Linked DNA regions of Homo sapiens: region 1 is linked to region 2. The links come from fine-mapping of genetic effects on gene expression. Tissue or cell type: whole blood. Region 2 holds a variant in brackets; the other region holds the start of a gene. All regions are shown on one strand. Distances are from middle to middle.

Region 1 (8,085 bases), 43 kb before region 2:
TTCCCCTCTGAATGAGTGGGTTCTGTGCAGGCAGTAGGCTGCCCTTGGCACTCCCCTGGTCTCTGCATCCCTAAACACAGTCTTGTATAGCAGAACACAGGCTCACCTTTCTCAACTGCTGCTGTGTTGCCCCTTCCCTATATTATACACTGTCCCAAGAATAATTCTGCTTCGTGTTCCAAAGAAACACATGGGCTGGAAACAATAGGAGGAAGAGACGTGTGTTCTGTTCCCTTGATGGTATGAGGGAGGCTGCTGTGGCTGTCTTGAAACCCTCTAGGCTGCAACTTACAGAACTCTGGCACCTCTTCTGAAGACTCCAAAATCACGGGGCAACCCCTTCCCTTTCAAGCCAGCCCTACTTTCTCTGGGATTGTTTCCTGGGGCTGAAAGAGATTCCCAGATTGAAAGACTGTCCAAAGTGAAGGAGACCTGGAGGCCATTTTGGTTCAATCTTCTTAATTTACAGATGAGAAAACTGAGGCAGCCGAATGATCCTCCCTCCACCGTTCCTTAAGTTAATGAGTACGAGGGTGGAATGCAACCTTTAGTCTCACTCTAGAGAGCAATAAGAGCACAGACATCTTTCCTCTTAGGAAGATATTCTGCCAGGAATGGAGGTATGCATCTAAGCTTACACTTGACCTGGACGGTCACAGGTGTGTACAGCCAGAGAAGAAGGATGGGTTCTTGCCTCATGGGCCATCAAAGCTGCTTGGGGAGATTTTGTAACCAAGCCACCCTAGTCATAGAGCTCAGACAGGTGGACTGGCCACTGGGCTCAGGAGGGGACAGATGTCAGGGCATCTCGGAGAGCAGTGGACTCCCCACTATCCACAACGGTCATAATCCCAGGATGACTAATTCTGTCATGCTTGCCCTGCTATTTCCATGGTGGTGGCTTGCCTCAGACCAGGGCAAGGATGAATGTGCCCCGGAGGCCGGCAGAGCCAAAAAAAGGACCCTGGTTGCAGCTGATAAAGGTGTAGCGCCTGTGCAAGGGAGATATTGAAATTGTAATCTTTGAGGTCACGTGACTCATTAAATAATTAATGCAGATCGTCAGGAATGGATCGGAGTCGTCAGGGCCTCACTAGGAATGAATCTCTCAGAAGTGAGATTCCAACTTACCATTTGATTTTTAAAAACACACACCCTCAGATTTATCTCCAAAGGCTTTTAACTCCTTCAGGAAGGCAGGAGAGAGCCCTCGGCAGGGAGGACGGAGCTGGCAGGCCCTCACCAGATCTTGGGGCCTTTTCCGCAGGGTTTCTGCGAGTCCAGGGAGCGCGCCGCGTCCGGGGAAACGTGAGTTCGGGCTTGGGTTTTCTGCGGTCACATCCTGGCTTTGGTGATGAAGTGGGACGGATGCGCAGACAGTTGGTAATGTTCTGATTCACGCTGGGGAAGGCTGCAGAGATACCACAGGACGGGCGCGCGGCTTTGTTCAATTTTCCCGGCGTTCATAAATCACCCGCGCCGGGCGAGCGAGGGAGCAAGCGAGCGCCAAAAACGCGGAGAGAGAGGCCACGGCGGCGGCGGCAGCCATTGTAAAGTGAGAGACCTGGGCAGCATCTCTCTGTGACTCATTAGTCTGAACGATTTATGGGGTACAGCAGCCATGAATATTAGACTTGGAGATAAGGAAACAGCAAAAATAATAACCATAATAATTACATACTCCTAAGTGTCACGCAGGGGAGTGGTGGGTGGCGGCATAGCGGATCTTTCTGGAATGAAATTGAGAGGCAAAGTGCAGGATGGCTGAGTCCACCTTGCTCATGGTCATGCCAGGAGCCCCAAGACCAGGGGGCACTCCCTTTGGGGACACAGAAAGCAAGTTTGAACAAGAGAAAGGGGGCGCAGCGCGCAGCGTGGATCCTGGGTCCTTTTCCTTTGGTTTGTGGGGGCTACGGGTCGAACTGTGGCAGAGCGCAGCTACCGGTGTGCGGCCACTTGTTCCACGTGCTAGGGGGCTCCGAAGCCAGGGGTCAGGGGACTCCTCAGCTATTTGATATCCCCTCTTAGCGCTATCTACAGAATTGCGTGAAGGCAGACAGACAGCGGAGGGCTGGTTTGGGGCAGGCTGGGGTAAGAGGTTACCTGGGTCTGAGTGAAGGGGTAGTCGGGGCAGGGATAGGTCTGTAGACGCAAAGGGCCCGCAGAGTCCCAGCGGAGCGCAGAACTTCTCCAAGCCAGGGTCCGGCGAGCGGACGATTCTTTCCTCTTTCCCCATCATCTCCCACTCCCAGAAAGCTGACTGCCGGCTCGGTGACCATTTGCTGGTTAGAGGGCAAGAGAGGGTTGCAAATACTGTGAGGGACGAGATTTGAGCAGAATCAAGGCATCAGATCGGCTTGTGGCCGTTGCGCAAGGCCAGGCAGGAGCAGGGCCCCTGAGCAGGTATTGTACCAGCCGGCGTCCCTCTCAGTTTCCAGCAGCCTTAGCTGGCCTGCTCTGAGGGACTAGGTGCTGCGGTAGCCCCGCCAGCCCACTAGGACCTAAAAGGAACGCACCCAGAGTTGAATAAACCAGAACACAAATCCTCCCAAGACTGCCTCTGGCCAGTGGAATGAACCCGGGTCTGATTTCGCGCCTACAGAAATGAACACATATTAGTGAGGTTTCAGGAGAGTCCGTGATTGAATGCTCCCAGACAAGGCTTCCTTTTGTTAGGAAAGGAAAATAAAGCAAGCATTCACATTCTCCAAGTTGTGGTGCCTGAGGAGAGAGCTCTCTGAAAGCAGCCCACACCACCAGCAAAGCCACTTCCACCTTCTCAGCTTCCTCTGTTTGCTTCATGTCCTTTCCTTCCCCACTCCCCCGCCAAAAAAAAGAAAGAAAAAGGAGAAAGTATGGGTGTGGAGATGGAGTATGTATTTATTTTACAAAAATAAATCACCATCTTCGGACCATTTGTAGACTGGAACATTTCGAGCAATGAGTGCGCCACACGGACGAGTGCCCTGGTGACTCCCTGATGTTCGCGTCACCCCCAGGGCCACCTTGGCGCCCGCATGAGCCTCGCTTCCCACTCCCGGCCTCCAACTCCCTTCCCTCGCAGCCGCCATTCACCTTCTGCTGTTTATTTGTCTGCAGAGCGCCTGGACACCGGAAAAGGCGATTCCCTGAGCGCCTGGAGTTGGAGACAATTCCTGGTTCAGAATTTAAACATCTTTCTAGGTAAGCGCTGCTCCAAAACTCTTCGCCGCGTGGGACTTTGCACCAGGGCGGTTGGGAGGAGTTGGCCCTCCACGGTTCCTGGCAACCGCGGCCTGTTGAAAGAGGTTCTGGTCAATATTTAACTTCGGAGGAGTTTGGAGTTGGATTCCTTTAAGCTTCTTGCCCTGCGAGTGCGGGGCCTCAGGCAGACAAAGAGCCTACCCCAAAACCAGCGATGGGCAGGAGAAGCGGTTGCAGAAGGCAAAGATGGGTTGTGGAGAGTCAGAGGGAGTGTGTTTGTTTCTTCCTGCAAGCCCCAAACAAACCACTACACTGAACTTCAGGGCAAAAGCAAGTAAAGGCCACGGGCACGGGCGCGGCGGCCGCTGCGTGGGCTGCTCTCTTTGTCGACTAAGGCGACTGCGGAGGCTGTGAGTTAAGAAATTGTCGCCAGTCCCAGCTCGCTGTTGAGGAAAACTTGTATCACACTCTTGCAGTTTCTTAGACCATTTTGCCTTTCCTTCGGCATGAGAAAAATTGCTGTATTTCTAACCTTTAGGCCTTCGCAGACAGCGGGTCTTCTTCCTTCTTTCATCAGGGCTCATCATCGGTTCTTCCTACGGGAAAAGCGTGGTTTTCTATGTCTTGGCGTTTCCTTTTCCTATTTGAAACAAGGGAAAACTCTTTTAAATTATTTTCAAGTTCTGACTTAATTTGTCCTCTTAGTTTGGGATGCAGGGAGGTAATTACTGTGGTTTATTACCTTGTAAAAGATCCATAAATTACATGCCTGTTTGGGGGAGGGGCTGCTGGAATAGCTTTCAGAAGCATGGTATGAAGGAATGAGTTTGCTTTGTTCTTTCAGGAATTACTTCTTTTTAAAAAGTTTTGAGATTTTGTATTCTATTTCCTAGGCCTCCAGTCTTCCCTTAAATTTGCTCCCAAATAGATATCAGGTTGTTAATTAATTGCAACATGATATTCAGTCGTGCTATAAGGCTGATATGGTGTTCTGGATACAATTATTTTTTCCAATAGAAGGTAAACAGAGCAATAGTCAAGCTGTGTTACTTTCTCAGCTACTGTATGTCTGTTTATATCAAATATAGATGGAACATTTCAGGAATTTGTAACTCTGTGTATATGATTTCCATCTCAGCAAACAACAGAACAATTGCATGTATAAATAGTTGCAGGAATTTGGGGCCTTGTGTATAACACAATATACACATCCACACGTGTCCAGAGAACTTGGCCCATTTCTCTACTGCACTTGCACCCACAGGAAATATCTCATGTTAAATAAGAATCTATCATACACACACACACACACACACACACACACACACACACACACACGCACACAGTGGGCTAAGAGAGCCTTACCTGATGCTGAGTAGAAAATCCACTAGATTTAAGTAATGGGACAAAAATGTTAAGTGTACTTTTGACAGAGAAATCAGATTGCAGTGTTTGAGTACAGATATATCTAATCTGCCAACAGCCTTGCAAATATTGGCTAACGGTGTGTACCCTTGGTTGCCTGCTTTTTCCAAGCCAGCTTTCCCCCTATTTTGGCTCTGGTGACCAGGACCACAGTATCAGTCCCAGCGCAGGCCAAGTTGGAGGCCGGTGAAGTGAGTGAAGAGGGACTGGCAGCTGGGTTTTTAAAAGGCCCGTAGCTTTGCTCCAGGAAACTGGATTGCAGAGTGGCAAAGGAGGACTGTCAGCTGCTGGTTCCCCAGATAGGCTGCCCAGGCCAAGATCTCTCATAGAGAAGCTGTTTTTTAACCTCAAAAGTTAAATGTCTTTTGACTTTTCAGATTTTTCCCTTCTCATCCCACCAAATCACCCATCCCACCCCAAGTCATTAATGTTAATTGTTAAACAGCAGTTGGAGCATTAACTGGATGTTAGCAGCCGTTTGGAGGCCCCAGGCTGGAGCTGAGATGCCTCTGAGCTTTGCTGGCGTTAAGGCATTTCTCTGAAGCAGTACCAATGACTTATTTCATTGATTTATGGCTTTTTTTTTTTTTTTTTTTTGACAGAGTCGCGCTCTGTCCCAGGCTGGAGTGCAGTGGTACGATCTCAGCTCACTGCAACCTCTGCCTTCTGGTTTCAAGTGATTTTCCCACCTCAGCCTCCCGACTAGCTGGGATTACAGGCATGCACCACCATGCCTGGCTAATTTTTGTATTTTTAGTACAGACGGGGTTGCACCATGTTGTTCAGGCTGGTCTCGAACTGCTGACCTCATGATCCACCCACCTCGGCCTCCCAAAGTGCTGGGATTACAGGCATGAGCCACCGCACCCGGACAATTTATGGCTTTAAGAGTTTTCATTTGCTCGACTGTTCCAAGAGCTTTGAAGGGGGCCCCTTCTCATCTTTGAGTTGATGCCTCTTCAGAAACTTGGGGGTAGGGAGGAATTTGCCAGCAATACCTCCAGGTCCCTTTCTAGGGTATCTGGAGAGCTCAGTGTGAATGATTGGTGAGGGGTATGAGGCAGGCAGCAGTAAGAATGAGAGGAGTGAGTTCTTGGGGGTCAGGAGAACGCTTTTTGGAAACCAGCTTCTACTCCTGTCCTCTATCCCCCAAACCTGAGAGAGGCAGGTTTTCACTTGGAGTTCTTACTTTCCAGCTTGTAACTTAGATAGGAGCTGGAAAAGTTCACATGGAGGTTCTCTTCCAGCTACACCACAGATTGAACCTTACTGAAATATTGTCACCAGCTTAGGCCAGGACTTGCTTCCAGGGGATTAGGTCTCTTCTTTTATTGCCTTTCTGATTTGGACAACCCATGAACAAGTTCTCTTATGAAAGGCCTTACATTTTCATCAGACCCCTTCTGTTCCTCTGCAGGGGAGGAGTGAAGGGGAGGAATCATGCACAGCCTCCTGCAGCTGCTATAAGTGAGTCCTCACACTCAGGCATAGCCAGCTGAAGACCCATTCTCCAGGAAAAAAAGAATATGGCCTGAGGATCTCACTAGCCTCAGAGCACTCTCAGAAGTTCAGAAACTAAGACCAGAAAAGAGAAGATTTTTAGACAGCTCATGAAACGGTACAATGTTGAAATTAGTGGGCAATGTCATCAGGCAGAAGGCAGGAGTAGGGGTGGAACCAAGGGTGGGAGCAGCTTATTTGTTTCAGTTAGGTTCTTCCTGAGCACAGTTGGTTCTCTACTGGTTTTCTGCTCAAGATTATTTTGAGAGTTCTGAAGGGGGCTCTTTCTCATCTTTGAGTTGATATCTCTATAGGAACTTGTGTGGGGGTGGGGAGAGAATTTGCTGGTGGACACAGAATTGTCTTGGAAAAGTGGGTGGACAGACCTGCCTGTGGAGAGGGTCCCAGATTGCCTTGTTAACTTAAGGCACTCCAGTGAAGGTTGATTCTTTTTCTTTTTTTTCTTATTTTTTTTGGGGGGGGGGGTCTCTTGCAGAGCAATTAGATCATTTCCTCTGATATTTTTTATGTTTAGAAACTTATAATTCCATGTATCACTCAGTTGTGCACTGAGGAAATGCTTAAGTGCAAGTTTAGTCAGGGCACTAGGTTTCTCTAGATTTTGCAAAACCCGGACCCACCACTCTATAGCCAAGCACATCTTTCCTAGTGGGCTCCCACTGAACAAAACCAACTGGACTTGGAGGAGATGCTTTAACCTTTTGTCAGGTAATTATGTGCCTTTTTGGTGTTTCTTGCGTCTGTAGTGTATGGTGTGGGTGTTAGCAAACTCCATACAATGGCAGGCTGTGAGGAAGTCCGCTGTCCAGGCCAGTTATTTCTGGGCCTGCCCCTTGCCTTTTGATATACTGGCCTGTGGGCCAGAGGAGACTGGGGTGCATGGGTGTGCAGGATCCAGCTTGTCCGTGGGTGGGAGGCTGTAAGGAAAGTTAAATGGATTCTAAAAATGTGAATAGCATTGCTGTAACCCTTGTGTTTGGAGGGTGTGTAAAGAAATATAAGTGGAGATAAGCTTGTATGTCTTATATGGCATTCATGGGAGGATGGCTCCAAGCATCCTATTGCTTAGACAGAACTCTTAAACTCAAAACTGCTGGTCAAGGTTCCCCACCTACCCTCCCCCAAAGCTAAATATTCTGTTTGGAAACCTAGTTCCTTCAGTGGTTCCCTATTTCAAATAAAAGGATTTAAGTTGACGTATGACCACGTGAGCACATAATACAGCGCATTATTGTGGCATTTGGAGCGGAGACCCAGACAGGCTTCGCCTGTGATTACGTTTTCTAGATTCTCTACAGAGCCAGAGCTTTCCCCCAACCCCCACGCACCCACCTCCTCCTTCTCCTTCCCCTTCTCCGGAGAGCGCTCTCTGAGCCGATTGCAGTTTTCAGCACTCATGGAGCGGTTCTGGGCGAGCTAGCCGATGGAAGTCGAGGCTATACCAGGAGGATGGAATTTATTTTAAGGTATTTCCGCCGATTGTTCATATCTAGAGTGAGTTATGGCTGTGAGAGACAAAGGTCAGGCGAGGAGACCCTGGCTCATGGACAGGACCCTCAGCCTCTCTCTTCCTTTGTTTCTCTTTTAGAACCGAAACCATTTGAAAGATTCCCAGTAGCGCCTCAGACTCTGAATTTAATTCCCTGGAAAGTGTTGGGGGTGTAAAGGAGGGGGCACTAGGGGGGCTCCTAGGTGGGCCCAGTGGCCCCCAGTGCAAGGGTGGCTTTGTCCACTGCAGCAGGGCAGGGCTGGAGTCTCAGGAGCTGATCCCCAGGCGGAAAGAGGGTCCAGAAGCCAGGTGCAGGCAGAGGTGGACCGGCTTGCAGGGCTAGATTGCCTGGGAGGGGTGGGGGATGGGTGGGTGAGAAGGGGAATCTCTCCCAGGATGGCGGTGTTTTCAGGCAGGGGATGGAGGATTAGGGGCTGACCTGAGCAGCCGGAGCAGCTGGAAGAGGG
Region 2 (8,102 bases):
TATATTTTTAGCTCATCAGGTATCATTAGTGTTAGTGTATTTTATGTGTGGCCCAAGACAATTCTTCTTCTTCCAATGTGACCCCAGGAAGCCAAAAGATTGGACACCCCTGTTCTAGACTATAAGCAACCTGTGTTCTGGGAGCTTTTCCGCTTATTCGCCACTTTATGTTTACCCAGAAGACAGTTCTTGTCACATAGTAAACGCTCAAAAGACATTGAATAAATGTTTATATTAACTAGGGTCCAGCTAAGCTACTGTGACAAAGAAACCAAAAAATTAAGTGGCTTAAATATGGCTGAAGTTTAATTCTCTTGTATGTAACATGTTAGAGGAATGTAAGCATCTACACTGGTGGGGTACCTCAGCATGTGAAGTCATTCAGAATCTGTTTCTTTCACTGTGCTGCTCTGACATTCCCTAGTCTTTTCTACATGGTTGAAGCTGTGTCAGCTCCACATCCCTATTTCAGTTTTTAGGAAGAGGAGTAGAGCAAAAATGGAGAGCAAGCAATTTCCTGTGAAGTAAATGATTTGTAAGTTGTACACATTACTTCCATTTACATTCTATTCTTTTTCATGTTTCTAGAATCATAAAATTTATTTCTGATGCAAAATATATAGTATAGATGAAACATTAGTCAAGATAAAAAGCTAGATCAACAAACATTTATTAACATAATACTGGATGGGTACTGTTGGAAATAAAATATATGTTAGACAGGGTTTCTGATCATCAGGAATTTACAATATAGTTGGAGATTTCACTGACATTCCATTCTGATAAATGTAGTCATGTGGCCACACCTAGGATACTAGGAAATACCATCTGTGGGTGGGTGGCCATGAGCCCAGCTAAAGTGGAAGAAGGAGACAATGGGCATTGAGGGGATAACTAACCCGTTGCCTCACTGTTGGATAAATGCTGTTGAAAGAATGAATATATTTTTAAAAAGAATAAAGAATGGATATTCATTGTTAACATTGTCAGAGTTTGGAATAATGTAGGGGTTTGAGGGCTATTTTGTTTTTGTTTTTGTTTTTGTTTTTTGTGACAGAGTTTCACTCTTGTTGCCTAGGCTGGAATGCAGTGGTGTGATCTTGGCTCACTGCAACCTCTGCCTCCCAGGTTCAAGTGATTCTCCTGCCTCAGCCTCCCAAGTAGCTGGGATTATAGGCGTGTGCCACCACGCCTGGCTAATTTTTGTATTTTTAGTAGAGAGAGGGTTTTGCCATGTTGGCCAGGCTGGTCTTGAACTCCTGACCTCAGGTGATCCATCCACCTTGGTGTCCCAAAGTGCTAGGATTACAGGCGTGAGCCACAGTGCCCAGCCTTGAGGGCTATATTTTAGAACTCTAAGAAATACGGTTGTGATACAAAAATATTAGACACTGACTAAAATAACATCAAATATGCTTTATGACAACCTATTCATCTGCACATTTTGGGGCAAGGGAGGGTTAAAGACCTAAGAAAGTTGCTTAGGCCAAGAAATTGTGCAAAAGAGGTCAGCACTGGATATTGTAGAGACACACCTGGCTTTGCTAGAATTTGGGGAGGAGGGAATAGGAGCTTCTCTGCCTTCAGCAAGCTTCCAGGAATAAGCCTTTATCTGCTATAGCTAGGCAAGACCCCCTCTAATACTTCCCTGGCTAGAAGGAAGCTATTTTGAGGCAAGGACGTTGTTTGATTACAAACCTTTGTGATCCTAAATTCAACACCAACAAAGGCTTTGAAATTCTTAGGCCAAAAACAGGGCAAAACCAAATTGTAACTATTTTAAAGGATGTGGATAAAATTTATGTTCCAATGATATATCCTGATACAAACATAACTTTTTAAAGAGTGTAGGCTGAGTATGGAGTTATATGAAAATGTTTGCACCTGTCCTCCCCTAAAGTGGCTAAGGGCATGTTGGCAAGGCTTGTCATCAACTGTGTTCTCTGTGTGACTACAGATAAGAGGAAGGGGCCCAGCTGCTGCCACAGCCCTTTTTCTTTGTGGCTGCGGTGGACACTGGGCTTGTCATTAGCTTCTCTGGCCTTAAATTCCCTCTGTGCAAAGAAAGGTAACCCATTCCCCTCCTCCTGTCTCCTTTCATATTTGGCTGAAAGTTTGGGAAACCCATTTCAACCCTTTCTTTGCCTTTCAACATGTCACATTCCTTCAAGCTGAGCTCACAGGTCTGTCCGTATGAAACCTGCTCTGACTCTCCCCAGGGCAAGTGAATCCCATCTCTCCTGTTCTTTTTCAGTGTTTTCTACTTGTCAGAGCGCTTCTCACTTTTGGGCTTTAAATATTTTTAATCTGTTTGCGACTCCTCCTTGCAAACTACTTCAGGATAGAGACCATATCTTATAATTCTGTCTGCCTTGTACAATACCTGGCACGTGGTAGACCCTTGGTAAATGTTTACTGAATGCACGAATGAGTGAGTAAATGAGCAAATGATCCTTTGGGTTCTTTCTTTATAGCCTCTCAGCTATTCTTTTTGTTGTTGTTGTTTTTTTGAGACAGAGTCTTGCTCTGTCGCCCAGGCTGGAATCCAGTGGCGAGATCTTGGCTCATCGCAACCTCCGCCTCCCGGGTTCAAGAGATTCTCCTGCCTCAGCCTCCTGAGTAGCTGGGACTACTGGCACATGCCACCACGCCGAGCTAATTTTTTGTGTTTTTAGTAGAGATGGGGTTTCACCATGTTAGCCAGGACGGTCTTGATCTCCTGACCTCATGATCCGCCTGCCTCGGCCTCCCAAAGTGCTGGGATTACAGGCGTGAGCTACCGCGCCCAGCTCCTCTCAGCTATTCTAATGTGGTTCATGACTCCCCAAGACTAGGAATACAAAGTGTAGTTGCAAGTTCTTCCTTGTTTCCAAAATATTTCTCACTTGCTTACTGAAGTTAAATTGAAGGTCAGAATTCTTTAATGGAGAAGCAATTGGCCTTTCATTATGCAATAAGGGATAAAATGGCTTAAAATGTAAATATTGCTTGAATTAACATACTGCTAAAACTTACTAGAACTAAAGTGGGCCAGGTGCGGTGGCTCATGCCTGTAATCCTAGCACTTTGGGAGGTTGAGGGGGATGGATTAGTTGAGCACAGAAGTTGGAGACCAGCCTGGGCAGCAGAATGTTACCTCATCTCTACTAAAAATTAAAAAAAAAAAAAAATTAGCAGAGTGTAGTGGTACACACCCATTGTCCCAGCTACTTGGGAGGCTGAGGCAAGAGGATTGCTTGAGGCTGGGAAGTCAAGGCTGCAGTGAGCAGTGACTGAACCACTGCACTCCAGGCTAGGTGACAGA[A/G]TGAAACTCTGTCTCAACAACAACAACAACAACAGGAACTTAAGTGTAACTAGTCAGTCAATCAAAAAGTGTAAATAACATACTAGTTTCTTTTCTGTTTTGCAGGGGGTGGAGGTCAGAGAGAAGTTAGTGTTTGGGTTTTAGTGAGGGATGGGAGGGGAAGGGGGTCAAAAGGTCATTTAGATAGCTACAGAGCATAGAAAGAGAAACTAGAGATCACTGATTTAGCACTTCCTTAATGTTTCAATTTTCAAGAGAAGTATGGCATAACTGCTCTTGTTTGCAATTTTATGAGAATATTGTTAGGAACTATGTAGCACAATGAACACCATCTTATATTATAGAATTTGATAAGATCTGGGGTGTTTGTGAATGTGTGGACTTAAAAATGTTGACTTTGTTTCAGAGGAACTGAATTTTCAGAGGAGTTAATAAAGGAGTCATATAATCTGGATTGTACCTAAAATACCTCTCCCAGTGGTAGAGCAGTTTGGGTACTTTGTATGACTAAGTGACATTGGAGATGGCCCCAGACAGGAAGGGGTAGATGGTATGCCAAGATTTAGCTGGAGCTTCCTAAATAGAGGCTGTCATAATCTGCATTTTTGGGTAAATTGCTATTATCAAATGATCACGGATAACTCATATATATAACAATAATTTTTTTTTTCTTAGAGACAGGATTTTACTCTCTCACCTAGGCTGGAGTACAGTGGCATTTGGGAAGTGAAAAGCAAATGTAGTCATATGTTGCTTAATGACAGGACTATGTTCTGATAAATGTGTCGTTAGATTATTTCATCTTTGTGCAAACATCATAGAGTGTATTTACAGTAATATAGATGGTATATAACCTAGTACACACATAGGCTATATGGTATAGATGTTCCTAGGCTACAAACTTGTACAACTTATTACTATGCTGAATACCGTAGGCAATTGTAATACAGTGGTAAGTATTTGTGTATCTAAATGTTGAAAAGATACAATAAAAATACGTATAAAAGATAAAAATGGTATGCCTGTATAGGACACTTACCATGAATGGAGCTTGTAGGACTGGAAGTTGCTCTGGATGAGTCAGGAGTGAGTGGTGGGTGAATGAGAAGGCCCAGGTCATTATTATCCACTGTTGTAAACTTAATAAACACTGTACACTGGCCAGGCGCAGTGGCTCAGGGCTGTAATCCCAGCACTTTGGGAGGCCAGGGCGGGTGGATCACCTGAGGTCAGGAGTTTAAGACCAGCCTAGCCAACATGGTGAAACCCCATCTCTACTAAAAATACAAAAATTAGCCAGTCATGGTGGCAGGCACCTGTAATCCCAGCTACTCAGGAGGCTGAGGCAGGAGAATCACTTGAACCCGGGAGGCGGAGGTTGCGGTGAGCCGAGATCATGCCGCTGCACTCCAGCCTGGGTGACAGGCAAAACTCCATCTCAAAAAAAACAAAAAACAAAACAAAACAAAACAAAAGCCATTGTACACTTAGTCTACACTAAATTTATTTATTTTTAAAGTTTTTTTTTTTTTTGAGACGGAGATTCACTCTCGTTGCCCGGGCTGGAGTGCAATGGTGCAATCTGGGCTCACTGCAACCTCCACCTCCCGGGTTCAAATGATTCTCCTGCCTCAGCCTCCTGAGTAGCTGGGATTATAGGTGTGTGCCACCACGCCTGGCTAATTTTTGTATTTTTAGTAGAGACGGAGTTTCGCCATGTTTTTGAGATAGAGTCTCACTCTGTAGCCCAAGCTGGAGTGCAGTGACGTGATCTTGGCTGTCTGCAACCTCTACCTCCCGGGCTCAAGCGTTCCTTGTGCCTCAGCCTCCTGAGTAGCTGGGACTACAGGCATGTGCCGTTATGTCCAGCTCATTTTTTGTGTTTTAGTAGAGATGGGGTTTCACCATGTTGCCCAGGGTGGTTTCGAACTCCTGAGCTCAGGCGATCCGCCCCGCTCAGCCTCCCAAAGTTCTGAGATTACAGGCCCAAGCCACCGCGCCCAGCCCACTAAATTTATCTTTTAAAAATTAGTTTCATTATATCCTGACAGCTATGACATCACTAGGTGATAGTAATTTTTCAGCTCCATTATAATCTTATAGGACCACCATTGTATATGTGGTCTATTGTTGACCAAAATATCTTTTTTTTTTTTTGAGACAAAATTTCGCTCTTGTCCCCCAGGCTGGAGTGCGATGGCGCCATCTCGGCTCACTGCAACCTCCTCCTCCCGGGTTCAAGTGATTCTCCTGCCTCGGCCCCCCGAGTAGCAGGGATTACAGGCGCCTGCCACCACGCCTGGCTAATTTTTGTATTTTTAGTAGAGATGGGGTTTCACCATGTTGGCCAGGCTGGTCTCGACCTCCTGACCTCAGGTGATCCACCCGCCCTGGCCTCCCAAAGTGCTGGGATTACAGGCATGAGCCACCGTGCCCGACCATTGTTGACCAAAACATCTTATGTGGCACATGACTGTATGTGCAAACAGGGGCCCAGTATTACACAATTAGTTGAAAATTTGCTACTTCTTTATTATCAAATGATCAGTTTGACTTTTTAAAAATCTCGCTTGAACTGGAATTGAACCAGAGTCTGAGAGTCAGTTGTCCTAGGTTTTCATTTCTGCCTCCACAACTGACTAGCTGTGTGATATTTCAGAGATCATTACTCCTCGGTAGATCAAAGTGAGATTATGTGAGTTTCAGGGCCCATTCCAGGCCTAACACTTTCTGTATTTTTATTCAGTAGCAACAATTAAAGCATTTCACATAACACACCAGTAGCAAAGTCTGGACTGGAATGCATGCCTTACAACCCACTTAACCTCCTTTTTTTTTCTTTACTTTTCAAACTTTTTAAAATTAAAATATAATATACACATAGTATAGGAAGTACACACAGTATACTAATCTTTGTTTTGAGACAGAATTTTACTCATGTTGCCCAGGCTGGAGTGCAGTGGTGCCATCTTGGCTCACTGCAACATCCACCTCCCGGGTTCAAGTGATTCTCCTGCCTCAGCCTCCCGAGTAGCTGGGATTACAGGCATGTGCCACCACGCCCGGCTAATTTTTGTATTTTTAGTAGAGATGGGGTTTCTCCATGTTGGTCAGGCTGGTCTCGAACTCCCGACCTCAGGTGATCCGCCTGCCTCTGCTTCCCAAAGTGCTGGGATTACAGGTGTGAGCCACCGTGCCCAGCCAAAGTATACTAATCTTAAGTGTTTAGATTGTTGAATATTTTCAAACTAGGCAACAAATTATAATTGAGCTATAAGATTCATCCTTTTAAATGTATAATTTGATGAATGTTGATAACTATGTAGAGTCAGATTACCACAACCACAGTCAAAATATAGACTGTTTCTATCATCCCCAAAAGTTTGCTTGTAACCCTTTGCAGTTCCCTCCTTTTACCCAAATCTTCTGGTAACCACTGACCTATTGTCTATCCCTCCAGTTTTGTCCTTTCCAAAATGAAATCATACTACATATAGACTTTTGTGTCTTTTTTCTATAACGCTTTTAAGATTGATCACATACCTGTATTTGATGTGTATCTCGATCATACTTGATGTGATGTGTATCTGATGTGTATCTTGATTACTTAGATCAAGATATAGAACTTTTCTAGCATCCCAGAAGATTCTTTTGTGTCCTTTTCCAGTCAATTCCCACCCCTCATGCCTCACCCCCACTATTCTGACTTCTACTGCTGGATTAGTTTTCCTATTTTTGTATTTCATATAAATGGATTCATACGGTAGATACTGTGTGTCTATTTTCTTAATGTAATATCCGTAGGATTTATTCATGTTATAGCTAGTAATAATAGTTGTCCTTTAAAAAAATAACTGTGTAATATTCCATTGTATGAATATACCATGTTTCATTTATCTCTTCTACTGTGGTGACATTTTGGTTGTTTTGTATTTTTGGCTATTTTGAGTAAATCTTTTCCTTTTTAGACATGGAGTCTCACTATGTTGCCCAGGGTGGCCTTGATCTCCTGGGCTCAAGTAATCATTCCACTTCAGCCTCCTGAGTAGCTGGGACTGCAGACACATGCCACCACACCTGGCTTTGAGTAAGTCTTATAAAAAACTTATAAGAACACTCTTCTTAATGTCTTTTGGTGAGAATATGTATCCATATCTCTTGGCTATGTTCCTAAGAGTGGAATTGTTAGATCATAGGCTAGGTATGTGTTTAGCTTTCATAGAGGCTGCCAAACACTTTTCTAAAGTGGTTGCACCAATTTGTTTATTTATTTATTTACTTATTTATTATTATTTTTTTGAGATGGAGTCTTGCTCTGTCACCCAGGCAAGAGTGCCGTGGCATGATCTCAGCTCACTGCAAGCTCCACCTCCCAGGTTCAAGCAATTCTCCTGTCTCAGCCTGCTGAGTAGCTGGGACTATAGGCGCCCCCCACCACGCCCAGCCAATTTTTGTATTTTTTTTAGTAGAGACGGGGTTTCACCATATTAATCAGGCTAGTCTTGAACTCCTGACCTCAGGTGATCCGTCTGCCTTGGCATCCCAAAGTGCTGGGATTACAGGCGTGAGCCACTGTACCCAGCCGGTTGTATCAATTTAATACTCTCACCATCAATGTATGAGAGTTCCAGTTACTCCACATCCTTGCCAACACTTGGTATTGCCAGTCTTACTAATTTTAGCTTTTTGGAGAGTGTACTGTAACCACTGCTTTTGGAGTGAAATTGCATGTACACCACCAATAGTGTCATTTAGAGATGTAGAGAATCAGGAGTGATCAGTCAGGTTCCTTATGTTT

The links. PIP is the estimated chance that this variant, and not a neighbour inherited with it, causes the effect.
Region 1: HOXA-AS2 starts here. The variant in region 2 is fine-mapped to the expression of HOXA-AS2 in whole blood (TOPMed, PIP above 0.99).

Annotation. Positions count from the first base shown.
Region 1 is chr7:27,117,657-27,125,741 of GRCh38, reverse strand. HOXA-AS2 (HOXA cluster antisense RNA 2) reads right to left here and starts at 3,823. Exons shown (of 4, transcript NR_122069.1): 1 at 3,716-3,823; 2 at 3,076-3,275; 3 at 2,104-2,282. It overlaps HOXA3 (homeobox A3), which reads left to right. Exons shown (of 6, transcript NM_153631.3): 4 at 3,100-3,183. RefSeq lists enhancers at 874-1,671, 2,471-3,268, 2,847-4,046.
Region 2 is chr7:27,075,101-27,083,202 of GRCh38, reverse strand. No RefSeq gene overlaps it. Among named protein-coding and RNA genes, the nearest start is that of HOXA1, 17 kb to the left of the region's middle. The variant A/G (reference allele first, on the strand shown) is at 3,305.